Regions from separate parts of the Homo sapiens genome. Here regions 2 and 3 are each linked to region 1. Evidence: fine-mapped expression QTL. A gene starts in region 1. Each other region holds a variant in brackets. All regions are shown on one strand. Distances are between the middles of the regions. Region 1 holds the start of ZNF727 (zinc finger protein 727). Region 2 has its middle 24 kb from the start of LINC02848. Region 3 overlaps LINC03075 (long intergenic non-protein coding RNA 3075).

Evidence for each region. PIP is the estimated chance that this variant, and not a neighbour inherited with it, causes the effect.
Region 2: its variant is the best candidate, but not a certain one, in a credible set for the expression of ZNF727 in whole blood (TOPMed, PIP 0.68).
Region 3: its variant is the best candidate, but not a certain one, in a credible set for the expression of ZNF727 in whole blood (INTERVAL, PIP 0.62).

The regions. Positions count from the first base shown.
Region 1 is chr7:64,041,921-64,050,107 of GRCh38, forward strand. It overlaps ZNF727 (zinc finger protein 727), which reads left to right and starts at 3,514. Exons shown (of 4, transcript NM_001159522.3): 1 at 3,514-3,704. The coding sequence starts at 3,702.
Region 2 is chr7:63,872,242-63,880,428 of GRCh38, forward strand. No RefSeq gene overlaps it. Among named protein-coding and RNA genes, the nearest start is that of LINC02848, 24 kb to the right of the region's middle. The variant A/G (reference allele first, on the strand shown) is at 4,490.
Region 3 is chr7:63,365,215-63,373,401 of GRCh38, forward strand. LINC03075 (long intergenic non-protein coding RNA 3075) reads left to right here. Exons shown (of 10, transcript XR_002956557.2): 4 at 6,289-6,421; 5 at 6,495-6,652; 6 at 7,782-7,838. It also overlaps the pseudogene VN1R31P. Among named protein-coding and RNA genes, the nearest start is that of LINC03075, 15 kb to the left of the region's middle. The variant A/T (reference allele first, on the strand shown) is at 3,234.

The DNA of each region.
Region 1 (8,187 bases):
AGTGAGTACTTATCCCCATTACCACCCGATGGCACAGGGTGTTGCCTCCATCCTGGGCACATTTTCCAGTTATCTGGTGATGGGAGACCCTGCCAGAAAGGATTTTGTGGATGGGAGTGAGCCTGGGATGGGCAGGGCTGGAACCAGGATCCTGAGGCTTGGGAGAAGAGAATCCAGGATTACATCCTTAGATCTCAGCACTTGGCAAACCTCCTCTCATGAGAGCCTCACGGCTGCCTCTGTGAACTGAGGCTTCAGGCCTATGAATCTATGAATCTTCCCTATGAATGTTGAAGACTCCACATCAGCCGCCAGTCCCTGTTCTCTAAGTGGTGAAGCTGCAGAGCTGCCTGCTTGCAAAGCCCAGTGAGGTTTGGCCTGAGCTGGACTCAGACTCTCCCTCAGGTGGTGCCAATGGAAGGAGAGTAAACTTCCTACTAACCGGACCTGGGTGAAAAATGTTGAAGGGAACTTGTGGGGAAGAGAGGTAACGGGCTGTTTTCTGGGGCTTTTCTCTTAAGGGCCTCTTCCTGTTCTCTAATGCCAGGCAGCCCCAACCTATTTTCAGAGTTGGATACAGACAGCCCCTCCTCCAGGAACTGGTTTTTGATTTCAGTCCCCTACTCACACCCTCCATTGTGATGGGTCTCTTTATCTGTGTATCAAACCTTTTCAATAAATCTAAGATGCAGAGGATGGAATCTAAATCTGAGATTGCAGAGGCTCCATCCTCTGCATCTTAGATTTACTGAAAAGGTTAAGCTGGGTGCAGTGGCTCATGCCTGTAATCCCAGCGCTTTGGGAGGCCAAGGCAGGTGGATCACTTGAGGTCAGGAGTTCAAGACCAGCCTGGCTAACATGGTGAAAACCCATCTCTACCAAAAATATAAAAAATTAGCCAGATGTGGTGGTATGCACCTGTAATCCCAGCTACTCATGAGGCTGAGGCAGGAGAATCGCTTGAACCCGTGAGGTGAAGGTTGCAGTGAGCAGAGATCATGCCACTGTACTCCAGTCTGGGCAACAGAGCAAGACTCTATATCAAAATAAATAGATAAATAAGTTAGATACACAGAGTATTCTCCCCAGGGGCATCTGTGAGTTTTACCTCTCCACTCTCCCCCAGTGTTGCCCCAGCTACTCACCTTCCTTTTTTTTTTTTTTTTTTTTTGGTGTTATTCACATTTCCCTGGAAGTCAGACAGCCAGTGTTCATTAGAAAGGCCCCTTAGACCCTTAGACTAGGTCCCCTCCCCACTCCCTTCATACTGCATTACTGCCAGGGCCACCAGGGTCAGGGCATGTGCACAAAGCAGGAGTTGGGTCTGCAGCAGGTTCTGGGGTTCAAAGAACAGAACAATGGGAGCTGAGGCTCAGGGACCTCCCGCCCCAACTCTCTCTGATGACAGAAAAACTGGAGGCTCCCATTAAAAAAGTGCTCAGGCTTATATGAGCTGCCTGCCCTTAGAGAGGTCTAAGTTTACTCTCCTTCCATTGGAACCACCTGAGGGAGAGTCTGAGTCCAGCTCAGGCCAAACCTCACTGAGCTTTGCAAGCAGGCAGCTCTGCAGCTTCACCACTCTGGGAACAGGGACTGACGGCTGATGTGGAATCTTCAACATTCATAGGGAAGAGGGGCCTGATGCCTCAGCTCACAGAGGCAGCCGTGAGGCTCTCATGAGAGGAGGTTTGCCAAGTGCTGAGATCTAAGGGTGTAGTCCTGGATTCTCTTTTCCCAAGCCTCAGGATCCTGGTTCCAGCCCTGCCCATCCCAGGCTCACTCCCATCCATATAATCCTTTCTGGCAGGGTCTCCCATCACCAGATAACTGGAAAATGTGCCCAGGATGGAGGCAACACCCTGTGCCATCGGGTGGTGATGGGGATGAGTATCCAATTTTGGGTGTCCATTCAAGGCCTGTCCCCTGAAGTCTCATAATCCCCTGTCTCCTGGACCCTCCTATCTACATCTTCCACTTGAAAAAGCCAAAGACACTCAGCTGCCTCTCCCCAACTCTCTCCCCTCCTCCTAGCTGGCCTCCAAAAACATGAACCCCCATGTTCCCATGTTAACTCTGTGGTGAGATTTTTACAAGTCACAATGTTATGTGGTCCCTGCCCCCACTATTTCCCAAATCCAGCTCTTCCAGGCTTTTACTCAGATTTGTCTTATAGAGGCATTTCAGGGACTGTTGCCACAGGAGGGAAGGGCTACGGGAGAAAGGCCCCTTGCTCTTTTGATGTGGAGGCCTCCGGCTGTGAGGGAGGAGCTCTTCCCTCTGACTCCCTGGAGCTCCTCCCCATCACAGGGACACTGCCTTTTTGCTGCTTTAGCCTCATCTGGCCTCTCTGTGGTTTCGTCTCCAGGGTGGCCAACGTGGATGTCTTCATCTGCCAGAGTCAAAGAAAAGGTCAGTGATACTATGCTCCCTTCACCCAGTTATGCCCAGTTACACTGACCTGGTATCCTGGATAACTGGTGTGAGTAAGCTGGTCCAATGCTCCTGTCATCTCCAGTAAGTTCTGATTCTAGATTGACTCCCTGCTCCAACACTCCCTGTATGTGGAACCTTGGGCATGCAGCCAGGCCTCCCTGAGACTGTTTTCTCAACTTGAAAGTGTGATGGGAACCACCTACCTCACTGGGCCTTGTGAGGACTCAGTTATATGTAGCTGTCACCATTGTTCTCATCATCTCAGGAAGAGCCAGGCACAAGCACTCTCAAAGTTCTTTTCTCCTTTGAAGCTCATCATTAGCCCCTCTCAGTCTCATCATCCCTACATTTTTTGGATAAGAAAACAGAGGCCCAAAGAGGGCAGTGACTTGCCCAGGGCCCTAGAGAAGAGGCCGGCTCCTTCCCACACCTGGAGGCACTGACCCAGCTGACTTTACCCCACAGCCCAGCACTATCCCTGACTAGGGTCCCATCTTCGTTCTCCATGCTTGTTTAGGTCCTCAGGCAGGCTCAGCTTTGGTGGGAAAGAAACAGGGTGTTTTGGGAGGTCTGGGTGAGTGGCACTAACCAATCTGCTAGGCCCTCACCTCTCAGTCTCACTGAGACACTCCATTAATTGGAAGCAGACCCAAAATTGCTTCACAGACTGAAGGTGATAATTGTCTGCAGCCAGCTGGTGCAGCTGCATCTCCTGGAGGACTTTGATCTCCTGCAACTAAAGGGAAAGACAGGATGCTGAGACAGGGCCTGCAGCATACACATAACTATAATTCAGAAATTGATATACACACACGTAAATATAATCAGAAAGTGATATAATCTTATATACAACGTTAAATACAAATGTCCCTCAGGCAGGGCCAGGCCCCCAACACAAGGAGAAATCGCTGCCTGAACATGCTGCAGGCAAAAACCTGTCACTCTTTCCTCATTCAGCCCAGTGTCTCATTACATCTCCTGTCGATCAGGGTCTAAATGTGTGGGGCGGAGAACCCCAGCCAATCAGTGGTGCTAGCGTGAAAACTGCCCAATCAGGTGCGCAGCTAGAGAGGAAGAGGCGGGCTCTTCAATATGGCAAGGCCTTCGTCTCCTAGCTTCTAGGCTCTGAGTCCAGTACCCGTCTGTACTATTCCATCTCTTCCGCTCCATTAGCTCCTCGGTGACTCCACCATAGCCCCTGTTATCCTGTGACCTGCAGGTACTGGGAGATCCATAGGGAAGAAGGCGGAACATCCGGAGGCTGGGAAATGGTGAGTGCGCGGAGTGGGTGTCCCGAGAAGGGGGAAGAGGCTGTTTGAATCCGGTCGGAACTGGCTGCGGTGGGATCTTGGCCTCGCGGTCAGCTCTGCAGCAGCTCCGAGTCCCCGTGGGCACAGTTCAGTCCTCACTTCCCTCCGTCGCAGATTAGGAGCTGAGCCTGCAGCCAAAACCCGAGCGTCTTGTTTTGTCCATAAACGCGAATTTCTTTCCAGCCCAGAGACTTTTTGGGCAGCTCTGTGTCGCAATCCCGAGTCTCCTCCAGATTGTGCGGGGACGTCATAAGACGAGAATCCTCATTCAGGGTCTGGAGTTCCTCCGTGGAAGAAGCAGTGGGCCTTGGGGTCCCCAGTCCCTCCTTTCTCCTTTTAAAAATTGTGGCTTATTTTATTTATTTATTTTGGAGACAGTGTCTCACTCTGTGCCCAGGCTAAAGTGCAGTGGCAAGATTTCGGCTCACTGCAGCCTCCACCTCCTGGGCTCAGATGATCCTCCCACCCCAGCTCCCCAAGTAGCTAGGACTAGGGAGACATGCGCCGCCACCTCGCCTGGTTTTGTGGTTTTGTTTTTTGTTTGTTTGGTAGAGACGGGTTTTTGCAATGTTGCTCAGCCTGGTCTCGAACTCCGGAGCTCAGGTGATCCGCCCCCCTCGGGCCTCCTAAAGTGCCGGGATTACATGCATGAGCCACTGTCGTAGCCTAAATTGAGGCATCTTTAGGATATAGTTTCGAAGTGTTTTCCAGCCCAACTCTCCTATTTAAATGTAATACCCCATGTTGGAGGTGGGGCCTGGTGGAAAGTGTTTGGATTATGGGCGTGAATTTCTCATGAATAGTTTAGCACCATTCCTCTTGGTATTGACCTCTCGATAGTGACTGAGTTCCCTGAAGTTCTTATTTAAAAGTGTATAGCAACCCCCTTGCCTTCTTTTCAAGCTCCTGCTTCACCTTGCACCAGGATTTTAAGCTTCCTGGGTGGGGCCCCCCCAGAAGCAGATGCTGGTGTTATGCTTTCTGTACAGCCTGTGGAACCATGAGCCAGTTAATCCTCTTTCTTATAAATTACCCAGTCTGAGGCATTTATAGTAATGCCAGAACCGATTAATACAAACAGTTTATTTGCACAAACAGCAATTTATGAATCAGAGAATATCCAACTATGGTTTGGGGGCTCAAAGGAGAGACTTGGAACAAAAGGCTTTTGTAAGAGGTATGAGGAAGCAAACCAGATTCAGTATTTGATTGGTTACAGTTATGTATTGCATTTGCACCCATCCGGTGGAAATGTCCTGGTTATGTACTTAGAGCTTTATTGGCAGCTTGTGGTTGGTTAAGCCTAAGTTTTGTGTTTTTTTTTTTTTTCTCAAAGTTAGTAATTTGTAAGAAATTCTTTCGACGTAGTTAGGTTTCCTTAGGCAGAATCCCAGAGCATCATGGCCATTTCAGCCTAATTGCCAGCTATTTAGTTATTTTAATGCTCTACAGGGTCCTTGGTTTTGTCTGCAATTTTCAAATGTTTGGCAAGCAGGGTCTCAAATCCAAAACTTCTCCCAGCCTAACTGTTATAGGGACTGTAGAAAATTCTACATTTCCAATTTCTTTCCCACATTCCCCAATGCCGACTATCCCTGTCCAGATCACATTATCAACTATTAGTCCTTTATTTAATTTCAAAACGGACGTGGCATTTTAATTGTTTATTTTTGTTTAAGAGAGCAGTAGGTGGCTCTTTTTAATTTCGTCTGTTCGTGAACATTTCACATAACAGGAAAGCAGAGAGTAATCACCTGACGCTCTGCGCATCTCCTCTCATCTTCTCTAGGCACGCGCGCCTTCCCAGCATGTCTTTGGATCCTTTGCAGGGTGATGTGTCCTCAGTCACTCTCCTGTATTTTCCTGGTTCCAAGTATTACAGCTTTCTGGGGATGATCCAAGATACCCACAAGGACCATGTCTCTTGGAGTGTCTAGCAAACATTAGCCCCTGGGTCATCTCCTTTCAGAGAAGAGCCTGAGGTATTGGGTGGAGCCTCTCAGGGGAGCAGCTGGATGCCCTCGTGCTGAGAGCAGTTTCCTGATACACCCTTCCTCTAAAAAGCTAACTGCTTTAACATTAAGATTTTTTTCCCTCTCAACCCTAGCTTTCCTTTCTGCAGACACATTGGTGCTCAACCAATCAGGTGCTGGTATTGAGGGAAAAAGGCACAAATGCATCTTGCCCTCTGGTTTCTCTCAGGCTTGTGAAGGAGAATAACTGTCCCAAAGTATAGGAAAGACCCACCCTAGTGAGGGCGTGTATAAATTTGCAAAGCAAAATACACATCTGCCACACAGGGGGCAAGTGCAGTGTCTTTTGGGAGAGTGATGATCAAGTACTTTAGTGAGCAGAATGGGGGTGGGAGAATCTCTCAAGTGATTGACACATGAGTCTAAAACATCTGTGTTCCAGTCAGCACTACTTCACCCCGTGTTTGTTGCCTTGAATATATATGTTCAGTTATTTCAACTTCAGTTTTTCATTAATTGTAAAATGGATTTTATCATTAGAGCTTGAAAGATTAAAAAAAACCACAAATGTTTTCTAAGAGAAAAGAGGTAGATTTCAGAAAAAAAATAGTTTATATTCCATTGGTTAAAAATTCTCATTTACCTTTTATGTATTGCACAGTGAATGTAGTAAGATTCTGAGGTCTGTTCTGTTTTAGCATGATTTCAAACAGAATCCCAGGGCTTAGCTTTGGGAATGCTACCTGGGAAAAGACAGAGGAAATGTCTGTCTCATGATGGTTGCAGAAAAATAAATACATTTTTACAAGAAAGTGTGGTAGATTAACACGTAAATTACAAACATTCATGAAAACATCAGTTTCTGTCTCGTGCAGAGTGGAGAATTTGTGGTAGTGGGCAACTCATTATTTTTTAGAAAAATTTCTACTTCATAGGAAATATTTATGTGTACACAATAAAAAAGTATTTGCCACTATACATACATATCTTTGCTCAGGTAATACGTAACCTAAAGCAATATGATTGTCTAGTATAATTGTAGCCAGTAAATCAGTAGCTTTTTTTGTTTTTAAGCTGCAATGGATGCAACAATTTTATCAGTAATTCTTTCTAAGCTTATAAAAATATTTTAAATCATATGTTCATGGGAAGTGACACCTCACCAAGGCAAAAGCATTTTTTCCAATAAAATGCATGAAGGTGTTCTTTGAAAGCCAGGCAGATAATTAGCAGATTTTTTTCAAACAGAATCTTCATCTAAAACAGATTGGTGGCCAAGCCTGCAGAAAGTTAGAGAGAATTTGTCCAGTGCTGGGTTTTTGCAGAGCTATGTATGGAGAGGGCGGTGACCAAATATTCTAAAAGATATTGGTCTTCAATTTAGTGGCACAGGTATTGGCCAAGAAAATCTAATATGGTTCCTTCCAACAAATTTGAAGTAAATCTTTTTCTTCATAAAAATCTTGTTTAAAAAAGAAAATCAAATTTTATTCTTGTATTATTATATTATTATTAAAGCTAATTTTAAGAAAACCTTATAAACAGATGTATTCAGTCTCAGTCAGCTGACCATACAAGATAAGATTTCTAGAAACATTTTATAACCCCTTAAAATTTTCTTTATTCTCTTTCTCCAACTTTATATATCCATTGAATTTACCTCATTTTCTTTATCTTTTATTCTTTCAATTTTATGTATTCTTTAACCTCTAAACCCAGCAAGATTGCCTTCTCTTTAAGAAAAACCACATCCTCTTGTCTCTTTCTAAAATAATTTTTTTCACCAAGAAACACATCTTATTTTCCTTGTACACTCTGTATGTAAAATTGTTTCTCTCCTTAACAATAGTTTTAGTTATTATATCTTAGCCAGAATTTTAATTTTTAGTAATCTGAATATATAGTGAAAGCCTGAGAAGTAAGCAATTTTAACTATTAGTCATGTAGTAAACATTTAGAAATATATATTTTATAATTTTTAGAAACATAGGATTTTAAATGGAAACATTTTTAATGTGGAATAGGACATACTAACAGATCTAAATATCTTTTGTTTCTGTGAAGAAACCAAAAATATTTAGCTTAAACTTATATTTAAAAATTAATATCTTAGCATTTTATCTTATTTAGAGATAATCTAGATGTTTAATGAATAGCCATTATTTAATGTAGGTTAGCAACAATCTAAGATTATAGTTTCCATAAAGATTTGAGAAACTATTTAAACACATTACAAAACAATTAGTATTGTAAGTTTTAAGCTTTTGTCCCATTTACATCTGTTTTATTTATTTATTCTTAATTATTTTTGTAAAATCTCATGAAACATTAGACTAATACACTCATCTGAAGTTAAACTTTCTATTATCCATTTTTGTATTACTGTATTGGACAAGTTATAAAAGCAATAAACTTTCTACATATATATATTTTTCTATATATATATATTTCGCTGAGAAGTCAGAAGACAC
Region 2 (8,187 bases), 170 kb before region 1:
CTGTGCTGTATTCTGTTTTGTTGGTGTGTAGGGTTTTACCAAAGTTCTTTGATTACCCTACCTTCATTTTGTATTTTGAAATCATTAAGCATGATGTGTCCAATATTGTTTTTCTTTTTTAAATAGTCAGGCTCTTTGTGGTTTCTTAATATTCCATATAATATGGAGGTTGTTTTCCTATTTTTGGAGAACTAAAATTTGGAATTTGAAAGGGATTGTATTGAATGTGTAGATAGATCACTTTGGTCAGTATGGCCATCTTCACAGTATTAAGTCTTCCAACATTTGGACAGGAGCATGCTTAAGAGCGTATTGTTTAATTTTCATATTTTGTGAATTTTTTTGGTTTTCCTTCTTTTAGTGATTTTTAGTTTCATTCAATTTTGGCCAAAAATAACAGTGTGTAAGATTCAAGGTTCAAAAATGGATTAAGACTTGTTTTATGAGATAGCAGGTGTTGTATCCAGGAGAATTTTCTTATGAGCTATTGAAAAGATTGTGTATTCTGCTGTTGTGTGGCATATTCTGTATATGTCTTTTAGGTGTAATTGTTTTACATTGCTTTCAAGTCCTTTGTTCCCTTATTAATGTTCTGTCATGCTTTATTATTTATTACTGAAAATATTAAAGTATTCTCCCAGTATTACATTACTTCATTTCTGTCAATGCTTGCTTTATATATTTGGGAACCCTGATAAGAGATATAAGTAGGTTCCCAGTGAATGAAACATTTTATTATAATTTAATGTCCTTGTGTGTCTATTGTGAGTTTTGACTTAAACTATATTTTATAAAATATGTCAGCTTTTGACTTAATATCATTAGTTCTCCAGCTCTCATTTGGTTAACATTTGCATGGAATAGCTTTTCTCATCCTGCCACTTTCAGTCTATTTTCTGAGGTGAGTCTCTTGGAAACATGACATAGGTGGATTCTGTTTTCTAAATTCAAAAAAGAAATCCCTTTATTTAATATTTGCCTTTTGATTTGGAAAGTTTAGTCCATGAATATTTTAATACTTTTCTGAAAGGAAATGACTTGCAATTGCCATTTTATTGTTTTATTTGACTCTTGTAGCTATTTTGTCCCTATTTACTTTGTATTTATTTGTGTCTTGTTGATATTTGCAGTGACATGCTTTGCTTTTTTATTTTCTATTGTGTATCTGCATTTTCTTTATGGTTCCCATTTAAATTACATAAAATACCTTAAAGTTACAACTGTGTATTTTAAACTAGTAACAACTTGCACTCAGTTGCATACAAAAATTCTTGCTCATTACATCTGCCCTCAACTTAACAATGTCACTAAGTATATCATATATTAATGGGTGCTTTAATTTTCATGATGTCTTTCAAATTTTAAAGCACAATTGTTTTCTGCCTATTTATTATAATACTATAAAGTATTATTTTTGTGTACGTGCATATCTTTCTCAGAGAGTTGCGTATTTTTATATGAGTTGGTTTGTTTTCTAGCATTTTAAATTTTTAATGGGAAAGACTTCCTTTTGCATTTTTGTAGGACAGTTATTCTGGTGATGTACTTTCTCAGCATTTAGTTATCTTGGAAAATCTTTATTTTTTAAAATTTTCTAGGACAGTTTTGCTAAAAGTTTTTTTCCTTCAGCACTTGGACTATATAACCCAACTCTCCTCTTGGGTTTTTGTTAATCTTGCAGGAGTATGCATATAGGTGATACATCCCTCTTGTCTTTCTGCATTCAAGTGCCGAGATTGCAGCATCTGCCCGGCCGCCACCCTGTCTGGGAAGTGAGGAGCGTCTCTGCCTGGCCGCCCATCGTCTGGGATGTGAGGAGCCCCTCTGCCTGGCTGCCCAGTCTGGGAAGTGAGGAGCGCCTCTTCCCGGCTGCCATCCCATCTAGGAAGTGAGGAGCGTCTCTGCCTGGCCGCCCATCGTCTGAGATGTGGGGAGCGCCTCTGCCCCGCCGCCCCGTCTGGGATGTGAGGAGCGCCTCTGCCCGGCCGCGACCCCATCTGGGAGGTGAGGAGCGTCTCTGCCTGGCCGCCCCGTCTGAGAAGTGAGGAGACCCTCTGCCTGGCAACCGCCGCGTCTGAGAAGTGAGGAGCCCCTCCGCCCGGCAGCCACCCGGTCTGAGAAGTGAGGAGCCCCTCCACCGGGCAGCCACCCCGTCTGGGAAGTGAGCAGCGTCTCCGCCCGGCAGCCACCCCGTCCGGGAGGGAGGTGGGGGTCAGCCCCCGCCCAGCCAGCCGACCCGTCTGGGAGGGAGGTGGGGGGGTCAGCCCCCAACCCGGCCAGCCGCCCCGTCCGGGAGGGAGGTGGGGCTGTCAGCCCCCCGCCCGGCCAGCCGCCCCGTCCAGGAGATGAGGGGCGCCTCTGCCCGGCCGCCCCTACTGGGAAGTGAGGACCCCCTCTGCCCGGCCACCACCCCGTCTGGGAGGTGTGCCCAGCAGCTCATGAAGAACGGGCTATGATGACGGTGGCGGTTTTGTGGAGTAGAAAGGGGTTGAGAAATCGGATGGTTGCCGTGTCTGTGTGGAAAGAAGTAGACATGGGAGACTTTTCATTTTGTTCTGTACTAAGAAAAGTGCTTCTGCCTTGGGATCCTGTTGATCTGTGACCTTACCCCCAACCCTGTGCTCTCTGAAACATGTGCTGTGTCCACTCAGGGTTAAATGGATTAAGGGCGGTGCAAGATGTGCTTTGTTAAACAGATGCTTGAAAGGCAGCATGCTCGTTAAGAGTCATCACCACTCCCTAATCTCAAGTACCCAGGGGCACAAACACTGCGGAAGGCCGCAGGGTCCTCTGCCTAGGAAAACCAGAGACCTTTGTTCACTTGTTTATCTGCTGACCTTCCCTCCACTATTGACCTATGACCCTGCCAAATCCCCCTCTGCGAGAAACACCCAAGAATATCAATAAATAAAAAAAAGAAAGAAAGAAAAAGAAGATTCTCTTCTTTTCTGTGACTTTCAAAACTTTGCTTAGATTGTGTCTTGTTATGGGTCTTTTTATCCAAGATGGAGTTTGTTGAGCTTCAGTTTTTAGTATTTTTTTCTTACATTGGATAATTTCTCAGTCATTTTTGTATTCTTCTCCAAAACTTGTTTCTTTTTGTCATTTTGTTGATATTCTTATTTTTCTGATTACACTTAGTTGTCTGTGTTCCCATGTTACACATTGAGCATAACTGAGATGTTTATTTTGATTTTTTTCAGATAATTTATTCATCTTCATTTCTTTAGGGTTGATTTCAGCATACTTGTTTCTTTGATTAGGCTGTGTTAGTCTGATATTTTGTATATATTGTAGTGTTTGGTTGAGATATGTGCATTAAAAATAAAGCCACCCATCACAGTCTGTATAAAGTGGATTTCTTCCCTGCAATTTACCAGGATGGATATTGAGAATTTCTCAAACCATTCTTAAGATGTCTCTTCCCTAGATTTGTGTTCCCCTTATTGAGTTATGCGGGTTTGCCCATGTTTCTGCTTAAGAGCCTGTAATTAGTTGGTACACCTGCTGTTTCTCTGTGGTCCTATAGTCTCTCTGCTGGCCTAAAAATCATTTACCTTTTGTCTCACAGACAGTAACCTGTCATTCAAAGTACAGCACAATTTCTTTCGGCACTCTGTGTCACAGTAGACAGAAACCAGTCTTTGGAAAGATCCCTCAAAGCCAGAAGTATGGACACATGTGCCACTATTTTTTTTTTTCACTGTTGAGAGAGAAGCCAGGCATTGAGGGTTTATACTTAAAGGCATTATTTTGTGTTTAGGAGGAAGTATGGCTGTGGTGGTTAAATGTAACAAATGCTCCTTTGTCTTCTCTGTGGCTCTTGGCATCATTCTCATCTATGGCACTGCAGTCTCTTAACTGGTTTTTAGAGCTCTTACAAAGGCATTTTGGTCAATATATTTTTGTTAAGTTTGCATGTCTATTAAGGAATTTGGGCCTGTAGTATTGTGCCATCTTATTGTGCTTGGTATAATTTTATATTTTGTATTTGTAAAGTATATTCACCTGAGTCTAATAAGTGGTATAATGTATTTTTATTTCTTTTAGCTGTGTTGCCTCATTTTACTCCAGACCTTTTGCCTGAGCAGAGCATAAAACATTCCCAAAAGTGATACTGAGAAGATATGAAAGCTATGGCATTCAAAATTTAAACTTAAGAAAAGACTGGGAATGTGTAGGTGACTGTAAGGGACAGAAAAAAAGTTATAATGGACTTAACCAATGTTTATCAACTACCCTTAGCAAAATCTTTCAATGTGATGAATGTGGCAACGCTTTTAACCAGTGCTCAATCCTTACTCAACATAAGAGAATTCACACAAGAGAGAAACCATACAAATGTGAGGAATGTGGCAAAGCCTTTAACTGGTTCTCAAACCTTATTCAAAATAAGAGAATTTGTACTGTAGGGAAACCCTACAAATGTGAAGAATTTGGCAAAGCCTTTAACCAGTGCTCACACCTTATTGGACATAAGAGAATTCAT[A/G]CTGGAGAGAAACCTTACAAATGTGAAGAATGTGGCAAAGCCTTCAACTAGGGCTCACATCTCAGTGGACACAAGAGAACTCATACTGAAGGAAACCCTACACATGTGAAGAATGTGGCAAAACTTTTAACTGGTTCTCATACTTTTCTCAACATAAGAGAATTCATACTGGAGAGAAACCCCTACAATAGTGAAGAATGTGCAAAAGCTTTTATGCATGGCTCAATCCTTACTAAACATAAGAGAATTCATACTGGAGAGAAATGCTACAAATGTAAAGAATATGACAAAACCTTTAATCAGAGCTCACACCTTATTGGACACAAGAGAATTCATACTGGAGAGCAACCCTACAAATGTGGAAAATGTGGCAAAGCCTTTAACTGGTTCTCAAACCTTACTAAACATAAGAGAATTCAAACTGGAAAGAAACTCAAGAAATGTGAAGAATGTGGTAAGTCTTTGATCAATGCTCAATCCTTACTGAATATAAGATAATTCATGTGATCGAGAACACCTACAATTGTAGGGAATGTAGCAAAGGTTTTAATTTGTGCTCAACTTTTACTGTAAGTGAATTCATTCTGGAGAGAGACCCTACCAAGGTGAAAAATGTGGCAAAACCATTAGTGAATGCTGACATCACAATCTACAGCAGTGATTTCATACTAAATAAAAGTGGTATTAATGTAATGACTGTTGAAGGATTGTTCACAAAATATAACCCTTAACGTGCACAAGATTATTTTAGTGAAGAAAAGCATTACAAATATAAAGGCAGAATACCTTACTTATACCACAGATTTTATTGTACACTGAAAAATTTATACTGAAGGGAAACTTTCCAGGAATTCCTCAAACTTTATATTGGGGAGAAACCCTATGGATGTAATTATGTGGAAAAACTTTTGTTCCATACATATACCTTAGAGAACACTGGAGAGTTTCTACTAGAATTTATTATACAGATTTAGGAAATGTGAAAAAGTAAATTAGAAATCAAGCCAAAGTAAATGTCATAGATTGACAGTAGAAAGCACCAAGGCAGTAACAGTTTGAGACATTACTCTAATCAGTGATGATTATAGAGAATAATTTAAAATAGATTGCTTACTTGTGTGTAAGTTTAAATGGAGAAGGAGATTGATTTTCTCTTTTTTGGACAGTTATAATTACATTCAAATTATACTTTTTGGAATTGAAATAATTATAGTTACTTTGAAAAGCAAATATTTATGTAAGTTAAACTCACAAATGTCTTGATGTTATATCATCATTTCTAGTGCTCATGTGAAAGCACGTGGTTAATGGTTTCTGCATCAGAGCTCTGAGACATCTTTCTCTATTAAGTGGGCACCATTAATACACTTTTCCATGGAACACTAAGGACACTTGAATGTAAGATGCATAAAGAAAATCTAAGTGGAGAGGCCCCTTATAACAATGTTGTAAGTGATTCATGAGGTAGGTGTTCAGGGTAACATGATTCAGCATTGTAGGAGAAGAGAAGCATTTTGAATCTTAGAAGTCAATTGTTTTACCAGTTACACATTAAAATAATAAAATGCAGTGGAGTTTAAAATGCTTTTTGAGATAATGTTTGAACTTAATTTATTTTAATGGAATAAAATTGTTTTTAGTATGTTAAGACTATTTTCCATTGAATGAAATGCATCTTACCACCAACATTAACCTATCCCACCTTACCCCATGTTGTAGGTAACTGATGGTCACAATATACTATTGGATAGCATAGTAGAGGATAACGTAGTACAATGACATCTTTTGTAATCCCTTTTCCCAGTGGAATATTGTTACCAGAGGTAATACATTTATTTTTTCTTCTTTTTGTAACTATAGGATCATTATGGTTATAATAAAGATTACATAAGACTATAATAAAATACATTCACATATGGTTATAATAAAGATTACATAAGACTATAATAAAATATATTCACATATTTCTGAATTCTGAATGACTATTTTAAAATTTTATTCTATATTTATCTGAATGTGCCCACTCTAGTCTGCAAAACACAGATTTTTAGTTTTGATTTACATGGGTTTACATATACAAATATATCACATTATCGATAAACTTCAGGTGTAAGAGATTTGTGGTGAATTTAACTATGTTTGTGTGAGTGTGTACCTATTTTGAGAAGAAAAGACAAACATTAGATCAATACAGATAATTTTTAAAAGTGATGATATTTACTAGGCAGATCAAAACCTCAAAGATTCTGAAAGCAAATCTATTTTCTCTGCTTTGTATTGAATTCATTTATCTAAAATCTTATGGCCCGTTGGCTCAGAATCTCCATGGAAATCCTCTGTTTTTTTCTTGCCTGTTTCTTATGCTGGACCTGCTATATAATTTTTTCATTCCAAGGTTCGTGAAGTATTCTTTATATGATGTCCTCTGGGATTATAAGAATTTTATGAAATTTTATTATTGGATAATTTTATTTTTGGATTATAATCTGGGATTATATAAATTTTATGAAATTTAATCATGCTCAGAAAATAACTTTTAGATGTTAGTGTTTCTACAGCGAGTGTTTTAAGTTACATTCCATCCTTTTTCTTTTAATTGGAGAACTCCATTTAAGCCACTTTTTCTTTCATGATTGTTCTTTTTGTAATGGACATAATCAAGTTTACTGAGCCAATTTGTTTATGTAAACAGTGGAAGGCTTCATACATCATGAGGCTGTTTTGGCACAGAAATGAACACACACAGAGCAGTGCTCGCTGTGTAATAGAAGCTCCATAATTAGCAGTAAAAATGCAGAGGCCCAGGCACTGTCATCTTTGTTCACTGAATTATGCCAAGCATCTAGAAAACTGATGTACACATTGTACCGAAAATATATGTATTGAATAAACAAACCTCAACAAGAACCTCCTCAGATATCTGAGTTGGGTAGGGACTCCTCTTTCAGCATCCTAGGAAGTTTATTCATTCTCTGTCAAGGACAAAATCCAGCTAGAAGAAATCTCAAATGTGGTTTACCAATGCAAACACAGCTTTGCTTTCTAGGTGCTGTTTCAAATGTAGAGGGACACAGGCCAATGAGGCAGGAGAACTTCTTGGGCAAAAAGACAGAAACAATATATATAAGCAACCAGAGCATCCTAAGCAGCCAGGCACTCAGCATCTGCTTGCTGTGTCTTATGCCATTTAGTCCCTACAAGAACTCTATGAGGTTCATCTTCTCACTTTTCAGAGGCATAGACAGGCACAGAGAGCTGCAATGATATCCTTAGTACCCACCTGGTAGCTTGCAGAGTCACCACTGTGTCTTGGAGGAGACAGACACCTACTGAATAGCTTACCCAGGAACTGTGGATTGGTGGTGAAGTCCTGGTAGGAGCCTAGGAGTGTGGTAAAGGAGAAGATGGCTCAACCTGGAAGTCTAGTACCAGAAGCTCATTCAGCTTCTCTCTTGTACCTGGCTGGGAGTGTCGGCATTATTCTCATCTCAAGGTTTAGGGTAGACTTATTTTCATATGCAGGGGAACAAGAAGAGACATATGGTCAATGGCAGCACTGTGCACCACTGGCAGATTGGGGGCTGGGGCTTATACCAGGAAGCTCCTATTTTTCAGAGACTTGTGCATGTGGAGGACACAGTACAGTGTCCATGGTGAAGAAGGTTCTAGGCTTCAAAAGTTTTATATGGGCCAGGCGC
Region 3 (8,187 bases), 680 kb before region 1:
TATTCTACTTATTCTTGAACTTACTGTAATAACGTATGCATATTATCCACTAATCAATTTCTAATTTGTAGCATACTATCTTTTTATATTTTCATTGCAATAAAAAGTAAAGGGAAGAATAATGTGGAAAGACAAAGATTTTGGCAATCCATGTTTCCCTAGTGTCTCAGGGTCCTCTGTTGTAGGGAGGAGATTATTGTACTTGTTGTACTTAATACTCACATATGTTCATGAAGTAGATGGGACCCATCATCTAAAGTAAATTAGAGAACTTTGCAAAATGTAACCAAAATAAAAGTTTGTGCCTACCTCTCTTTTAATCAATATTTAGACGGGACAGGAATATAAATTTCAAGAAAAACAAATACATATTTCTTGGAGGCTTTGTTGATTTCTTTTTACTGTTTTTTTCTCTAAACTTCTCTTCTTGCTTCATTTCATTCATTTTATCTTCAATCACTGATACCCTTTCTTCCAGTTGATCGAATTGGCTACTGAAGCTTGTGCATTCGTCACATAGTTCTCGTGCCATGGGTTTCAGCTCCATCAGGTTATTTAAGGACTTCTGTTAACCGGTTATTCTAGTTAGCCATTCGTCTAATCTTTTTTCAAGGTTTTCAGCTTCTTTGCAATGGGTTCGAACTTCCTTCTTTAGCTCAGAGAAGTTTGATGGTCTGAAAACTTCTTCTCTCAACTTGTCAAAGTCATTCTCCTTCCAGCTTTGTTCTGTTGCTGGCAAGGAGCTGTGTTCCTTTGGAGGGGGAGAGGCACTCTGATTTTTAGAATTTTCAGCTTTTCTGCTCTGTTTTTTCCCCATCTTTGTGGTTTTATCTACCTTTGGTCTTTGATGATGGTAATGTACAGATGGGATTTTGGTGTGGATGTCCTTTCTGTTTGTTAGTTTTCCTTCTAACAATCAGGACCCTCAGCTGCAGGTCTGTTGAAGTTTGCTGGAGGTCCACTCCAGACCCTGTTTGCCTGGGTATCAGCAGCAGAGGCTTCAGAACAGCGAATATTGCTGAACAGCAAATGTTGCTGCCTGATTGTTCCTCTGGAAGCTTCATCTCAGAGGGGTACCCGGCCATGTGAGGTTTCAGTCTGCCCCTACTGGGGGGTGCCTCCCAGTTAGGCTACTCGGGAGGCACCCTGTCCGTTCTTGAGGAGGCAGTCTGTCCGTTCTCAGATCTCAAACTCTGTGCTGGGGGAACCAGCACTCTCTTCAAAGCTGTCAGACAGGGACATTTAAGTCTGCAGAGGTTTCTGCTGCCTTTTGTTCCATAACTATAGTTATTAATAATGTATTGTACACTTGAACTTTGATAAGAAAATAAAACTCAAATAGTCTCACCACACTAGGAAAAGGCAACTAGGTGAGGTGTGAGGGACATGTTAATTCGCTTGATTATATTAATAATTTCACAATATATAACTTTATTAGAACATATATGTAAGGTGATACAACTTATACAATTTTTATTTGTCAATCATATCCCAATTAAAATGGAAAAATTAAGTGTAACCAAACTAATGTCTAGCCACATGCAAATTTTATTTAGACCCATTTAAATAAATTCTAGATTTTCAATATAAAATCCAAACTGACATAATTTTTACAGAATCAGGAAAATTCTAATGAGGAAGCATGATATTAAAGATATAATTGAATAGTCATAATACCTAATACCCCTACATAATACCATAATATCCCTACTTATTAAAGTAGGGGTAAATTAAAATATTTTCAAAAGCTAAAATTTTGAGAGATTTGATTACCAACAGGAGCTTAAGAGTACCTTTTAAGAAAAAAGAAACATTTACTAATATGAAGTTAAAATGAAAATTAAAGAGAAAAAGATTTGATATGAGAATATCAATTTATGGTAGATATTGAACTTAGCAAGCTATAAAGTCCTTAGTAATATCAGCTTCAAAAGTATTCATATATAATTTTAAAAGGTGATCTTATACACATTGGTTAAATCAGATAAAAAATGAGCTACTTGAGCAGTTTAAATAATAGCAGATGACTATTTTTCAGAAAACGTTTTTCATCAATAGCTTGTTAAAATTGGTGGCACATCAATTACAATTCTGCAGAATACTTTTTTTTTTAATCAGAACTAATTTGTCCCAGTGGAATAACAGTGGCATATGCATTGAGCACAAGCCTCCGGAAATTCAGGACAACTGGGTCATACACCCATAACAGGATTGAGGATGTTGAAATAAGAAGGTTCATAGGATACATGACCACAAAGCAACTCATAACAGCAGGATGGTCTGGGTGGCCCTTTTCTCTGAGGAGATTCTTGGAGAGATGCTGGTGCTGTGGAGCTGGGATTGCTTCTGATTTCTGAAAAAGAGGATCCACATGAATGCACTTGAGAGCAGCATAACTCTGACAAGGAAGGCATCCCTGGATAATTTCACTCCCTGATGATGAGGTTCATGGGGAAAAGTGAGCAGTGTTTACTGACATTCAATAGATCAGTCTGAGTCACATTTGAAAAATACACAGTGAAGAAGATTAGGCTGCTACTAAAAGACAAATTGAAGAACCAAAAAAGAAGAAAAACATTGGTAATGTAATTTGTAAATTTATGTTTAAACCTTGCCAACCATGAGTTTCTGGGACTGACGGTGATGGCCTGGAGCACACTCAAGAGCCAGGGGGGACAGAGGGAGATGCCTCTTATCACCCTTTTTGTGTAAAATAATAGCTTACATTTAAAGCCATTCCCAAATTCAGTGATTCAAACACAACTTGAGGAAAAAAATCCACTGCAGTAAGGAGCATTAGAATATGACTGAGGACCAAGTGGCAGATGATCAAGTCATGGAACTTTGGCCTGGGATCCAGAAGAAATGTAAAGATTTGAAAGAAAAAAAAAATGGTATTGATGAATAATCCAATGCCAACTCGAAAAATAAAGGCACTTGTTAATGATAACATAAGTAAAAATTGTTTTCATCTTAATGACATAGAAGAAACATTTTTGTATGTCTGGAAGAAACAATATACCTCACATCATCAATGTTCATTCTAAAGTGACATTATCCCAATCATCATTATTTTTATTTTGCTCATTTATTCATCATTAAGCTTATCTCATATGAATTCTTGACAATCTTCATTATTCATCATTAACCTTATCTCATATGAATTCTTAACAATCTACCTTCTGTGTTATTTTGTACAGTAAATAATATATACATTACATGTTGTTTTGGTT[A/T]CTATAACTCTGTAGTATAATTTGAAGTCAGGTAATGTGATTCCCTTAGTTTTATTCTTTTTGTTTTATTTAGTTTTTTTCTAGGTCTTTTAAGGTTTCATATGAATTTTAGAATTTTTTTCTTATTTCTGTGAAGAATGTCATTGGTATTTTGATAGGAATTGCATTGAAACTGAGATTGCTTTGGCTAGTATAGACATTTTAACAATATTGATTCTTCTAATCTATAAAAAGCAAATTAAAAAAAAATTTTGTGTCCTCTTCAATTTTTTAAAAATCAGTGTTTTATAGTTTTCATTATACAGATATTTTACTTCTTTGATTAAGTACATTGCTAGGTATTTCATTTTATTTGTGGCTATTTTTTCTTCAGTTTCTAATGTTACTCATTTCTGTCTCATACCTCATTAGATTGGCCTTTAATGTCCATATTTTTACCAACATTGTCTTCAAAATTATTTACATATTTTCTAAGAAGATGAAAACTTCCTCTGCAGTTGTATTTTCTTCCTGAGCCCTCATCAGAATTCAGCTTGATTACATATTTTTAATATGCACTTCCAAACTCTTTGATGCCTTTATACATCATTCAGTTCCAAAGCTGCTTACACATTTAGGTGTTTATTATATCAGGACCCCACTTCTCCATATCAAAATCTGTATTAGCATCCTTTAGATGCTATAGTAGAATACCATAGACTTAGTAGCTTAAACAATAGGTATTTCTTTCTTGTAGCTCTGGAGACTGAAAAGTCCAAGATCAAGGTGCCAGCTGATTCAATTCCTCAGCGAACTATCTCTTCCTTGCTTGAAGATAGCCACCTTCCCTCTGAGTTCTTGCATGATAGATAAAAAGCATGCTCTGGCTGGGCATGGTGGCTCACACCTGTAATCCCAGCACTTTGGGAGGGCGAGGTGGGTGGATCACCTGAGGTCAGGAGTTTGGGACTAGCCTGGCTAACATGGTGAAACCCTGTCTCTACTAAAAGTACAAAAATCAGCTGAGCGTGGTGGTGTACACCTGTAATCCCAGCTACTTGGGAGGCTGAGACAGGAGAATCGCCACCATGTGCCACCATGCCTGGCTAACTTTTGTATTTTTAGTAGAGATGGGTTTTCACCATGTTAGGTAGGCTGGTCTCAAATTCCTGACCTCAGGTGGTCCTCCTGCCTCGGCCTCCCCAAGTGCTGGGATTACAGGCAAGAGGCACCATGCCAGCCAGAGTTGGTTCTTGATTTTAACATCCCAGTTGGCAAACTCTGCATGTTGATTGTTGAATACTTTTATATTTAATGTTTCTAAATTTTGTTTTCTACATGTCTCATTTTTTTCTTTCCTTAACTGCTTTCTTTTGCATTAAGTAAATACATTTTATCTTACATTTTAATATCTATATGGCTTTTTTCTTTGAGTTATTTAATTACTGTTCAGACTAGGATTTAATACATACATTTTAACTCATCAGAATCTGCTTCAGATTTCTTTTTTTACTAGAAGCATCTATTTATTGCACAGTTCCAGGTTCTTTCCAAATAAGCCACAGCCCAGTGCTTTATTCAGACATACGTACTGTCCAGCCAGTTTGGAAGAAGGAAAGAAAAGTCAGGCACAAATAAAGACACAGAAGTGTTGGGGAAGTGCACTAGAAACCATTTATTTCATTTGAAATGACAGAAGTTTGAGAGGAGGGGGCAAACAAATAAGATCTAATAAGTTAGCTGGATTTGTCAATGATAACATAGTGATAGTAGCTGATTATAGAGTGTACCGGGTTGGAGAAAGCAGGAAGACATATAATTGCAAACATTTGAAGTCTGCAGGGCAGGTGTTGAGTGTGGGAACTGTTTGCTTGAGCATTAGAGATGAAATGTGAGAGAGATACTTCAAAATGAAGCTAAACAGTTTGATCTAGTACCCAGGTAAAAAATGTATTGGTTTGTTAAAAGAAATCTTCACTTTAACACAAGATAGTGTTTGGTTAAGAAAGTGGGCCACAAATATGATAGTCATAACAATTAAGGTTAAAGTTAGAGCTAATTACACAAAGATGTGGCTAGTTGTTGTCACAAAATCAAAACTGAATAGTGTTTAAAATGTGGATGTTCTCCTGCTGGATATGTGAGATCCAGTGTCTCTTGAGTAGAAGGAACCGAGGAGACTGAAGGTTGGGGTTGACAGAACACATCACCATGGGAGGCATGGCCATTTAGAACTCCATGTCTAAATAAGCTATATTGCAAAGAACAGTGCCGATCCTAACCCTCGGTGTTGCTTAAATAGATGGAACCCTTCTGCCCTCCGTAAAGAAAATTGATGAAATAGGTGGGGGAAATAAGTGTTAAAATGCAGCCTGCATTCGAATTCCAATGCCAGGTACCCTGGAGCAAGGCTGTGTCACCTGGAGAACAGAGCATTATTTCTGGGAATGTCAGTCAGAGGAGACTTTTTTTTCTTTCTCAAAAAGGTAGTTATAGTCCAGCTGGGACCCTAAGGTCATTGGATTACAATAATTGTTTTATTTGAATGGCTATGGGTGACACAGGAGGACATTATGCTCAGTGAAAATAAACCAGGCACAGAAAGGCAAATAATGTATGATCTCACATATATGAAAGCTAAAATGTTGATCTCATAGAAACAGAGAAGAAAGGTGATCACCAGAGGCTATGGTCGGGGTGGAATGGGTATAGCAAAGATGTTGATCAAAGGGTACAGGTTTCAGTTAGGCTGGGGAAAGAAGTTTTAGTGATCTATTGTACTGAATGATGACCAGAGTTCTTAATAATAAATTGTATATTTCAGAATTGCTAAAAGAATAGATTGTTAGCAATTTGGTTAGGCGATATATTAATTAGCTTGACTGGATCTTCCTATAAATCAAAATATTACATTGTACCACATAAATATACACAATTACCTTTGCCAATTAAAAAAAGAAAATTATCAGGTGCAAGGCTTCCTACTGCTATAAGAAACTTCAGTATTTACTATGAAAACATTCTTAAGTCACCAGAGTCACACTGGGAAGACTGACATGACATTCTCATTACTTAGACAGGAGTGTTATTGGGAGAATCCTGTTTTGTTGACAAATACTGAGATCATCCAACTCACCAGGCAAAGTTGACTTGTGTAAGTGATCTTCAGATATGAAAAGTGTGGAACCCAGCTGCTCCTCCTCAGATAGGTAAGTTCACTTTTCCCTTTGGTGGCTCCTTTTTCCACCAATCTCAACATCTGCTCTTATCCTTTTTCTACAGGCGACATGACAATTGTAGGCCTGGAGGGAGATGAGTTGACAACATCCCTTCCCTATAACCACTTGTTGGATCTGATCTCACATACACAGACTCACTCCAAAGACTGACCTGGGTGTCTGCTTCTCAGCTTCATTAACAGTGGGTGCTCACAAGTCTAGGTGAGTGGTGAATCGAGATAGAATTTTATTAGCTAGTTGTTAGAATTAGCTCCTAATAATTTCAGTCTGTGGTTCATTGAATTCTAACTATCATAAGAAGGTGTTTCCAGATACAAAATAATTAATCTTATGAAGTAACAAATTTATAGATTTGTAGAAAAACATTTAGATTTTTGGAGATGTTCTACTTGAATTTGTATACATTTGACTTTTCTCAATATAATAGCTGAACTCTCAATATAATTAGCTGAACTACAACTTTCTGCATTTATGTGAAGTTTTAATTTGTAAACACAGAAATCTGAACTAATAAAATTATTTAGTCATACTTCTTGCTTCTTTAAACTTTGAAGATTGCTTTATATAATTCTGATATTTTAGAACTGTTTCAAATTAGGATGTTAAAAACACAAGATATGTCTAACATTTTACAGTAATAAGATTTTAGCAGATACCCAGATTCTTTTGTTTCATTTCATTATAGTAATTGCCAATAGAGATTTTTTTCTTGTGATATTAAAACTATCTGAAAATATAATGTTCTGCTGTTTATATAAATTTCTGTTGAGCTAACTACTACCTTGTATAAATGGGGAGGAGGTGATACTCAGTGTGCTTTGAAATCTTTTCCTAAAGTAAATTGTTTTAGTATGGTATTGTTTCTAAGTAAACCAAAACTTTAAAATACTCTGTGTATTAGTTTGGGTGAGGTTATTTCATGATGAGAACAATGGTATTAAAACAATGGTATTTTCTTATTATAAAACATCCTCTTGGTTTAGTATTTCTGCTTATACCTCTGAAGACTACCAACTGCAATGTGTTCAATAAAACACAGTCCAAAATGTGACAAGTAAATTTGGTTTTTAAAAACACAAATAATCATTGTCTGTATTCAGCAGGCATATCGTCATCAAGCATGTGTGTTTCTTTAAAGTAGAAAACAGAGAGGATGAAATCAGGATAAGTAAAACACAGAAAGGAACAAATGATGATAAAATAAATTTGTGGTCCATGTGGGCATCAAAATATTAAGGAACATACTCAGTGGACAATTGCTATATTTCTGAATATGAATGAATTTGTCTTAAAATAATTTGTGTTGAAAGCCCCTGTCTTCCATGCATAGTGGAGAGAATGTCTGAGAAGAGGAGGACCTTGACTGCTCCTGAACCGGAGACCTCAGGTACACAAGGCATGCCCTCCATTTTCCTCCAAATTCTCCAGTTGAATGCAATTGGTATGACTATGATCTTCTCATTACTGTGATGCACAGATATCTGATACTAAAACACCACATAAGCATTTTCACATAAGAATTGTATATTTCGCTGGTATCTTCTAGGTTGTGTTGATTACAAAAACACATTTCCAAACAGGTTTATAGGGTTTCCCAAAATTTATAACACAAGATTTGTGGTCAAACATTTTGTGTGTTTTTCTGTCTCCTACTTTTGCTTTTTTATTCTGTTTTCTCCTTTCCTTGGGAAAGCTGAGAATTAAATGTCTTTAAGTTATAATTTCCTTGTCAGCAG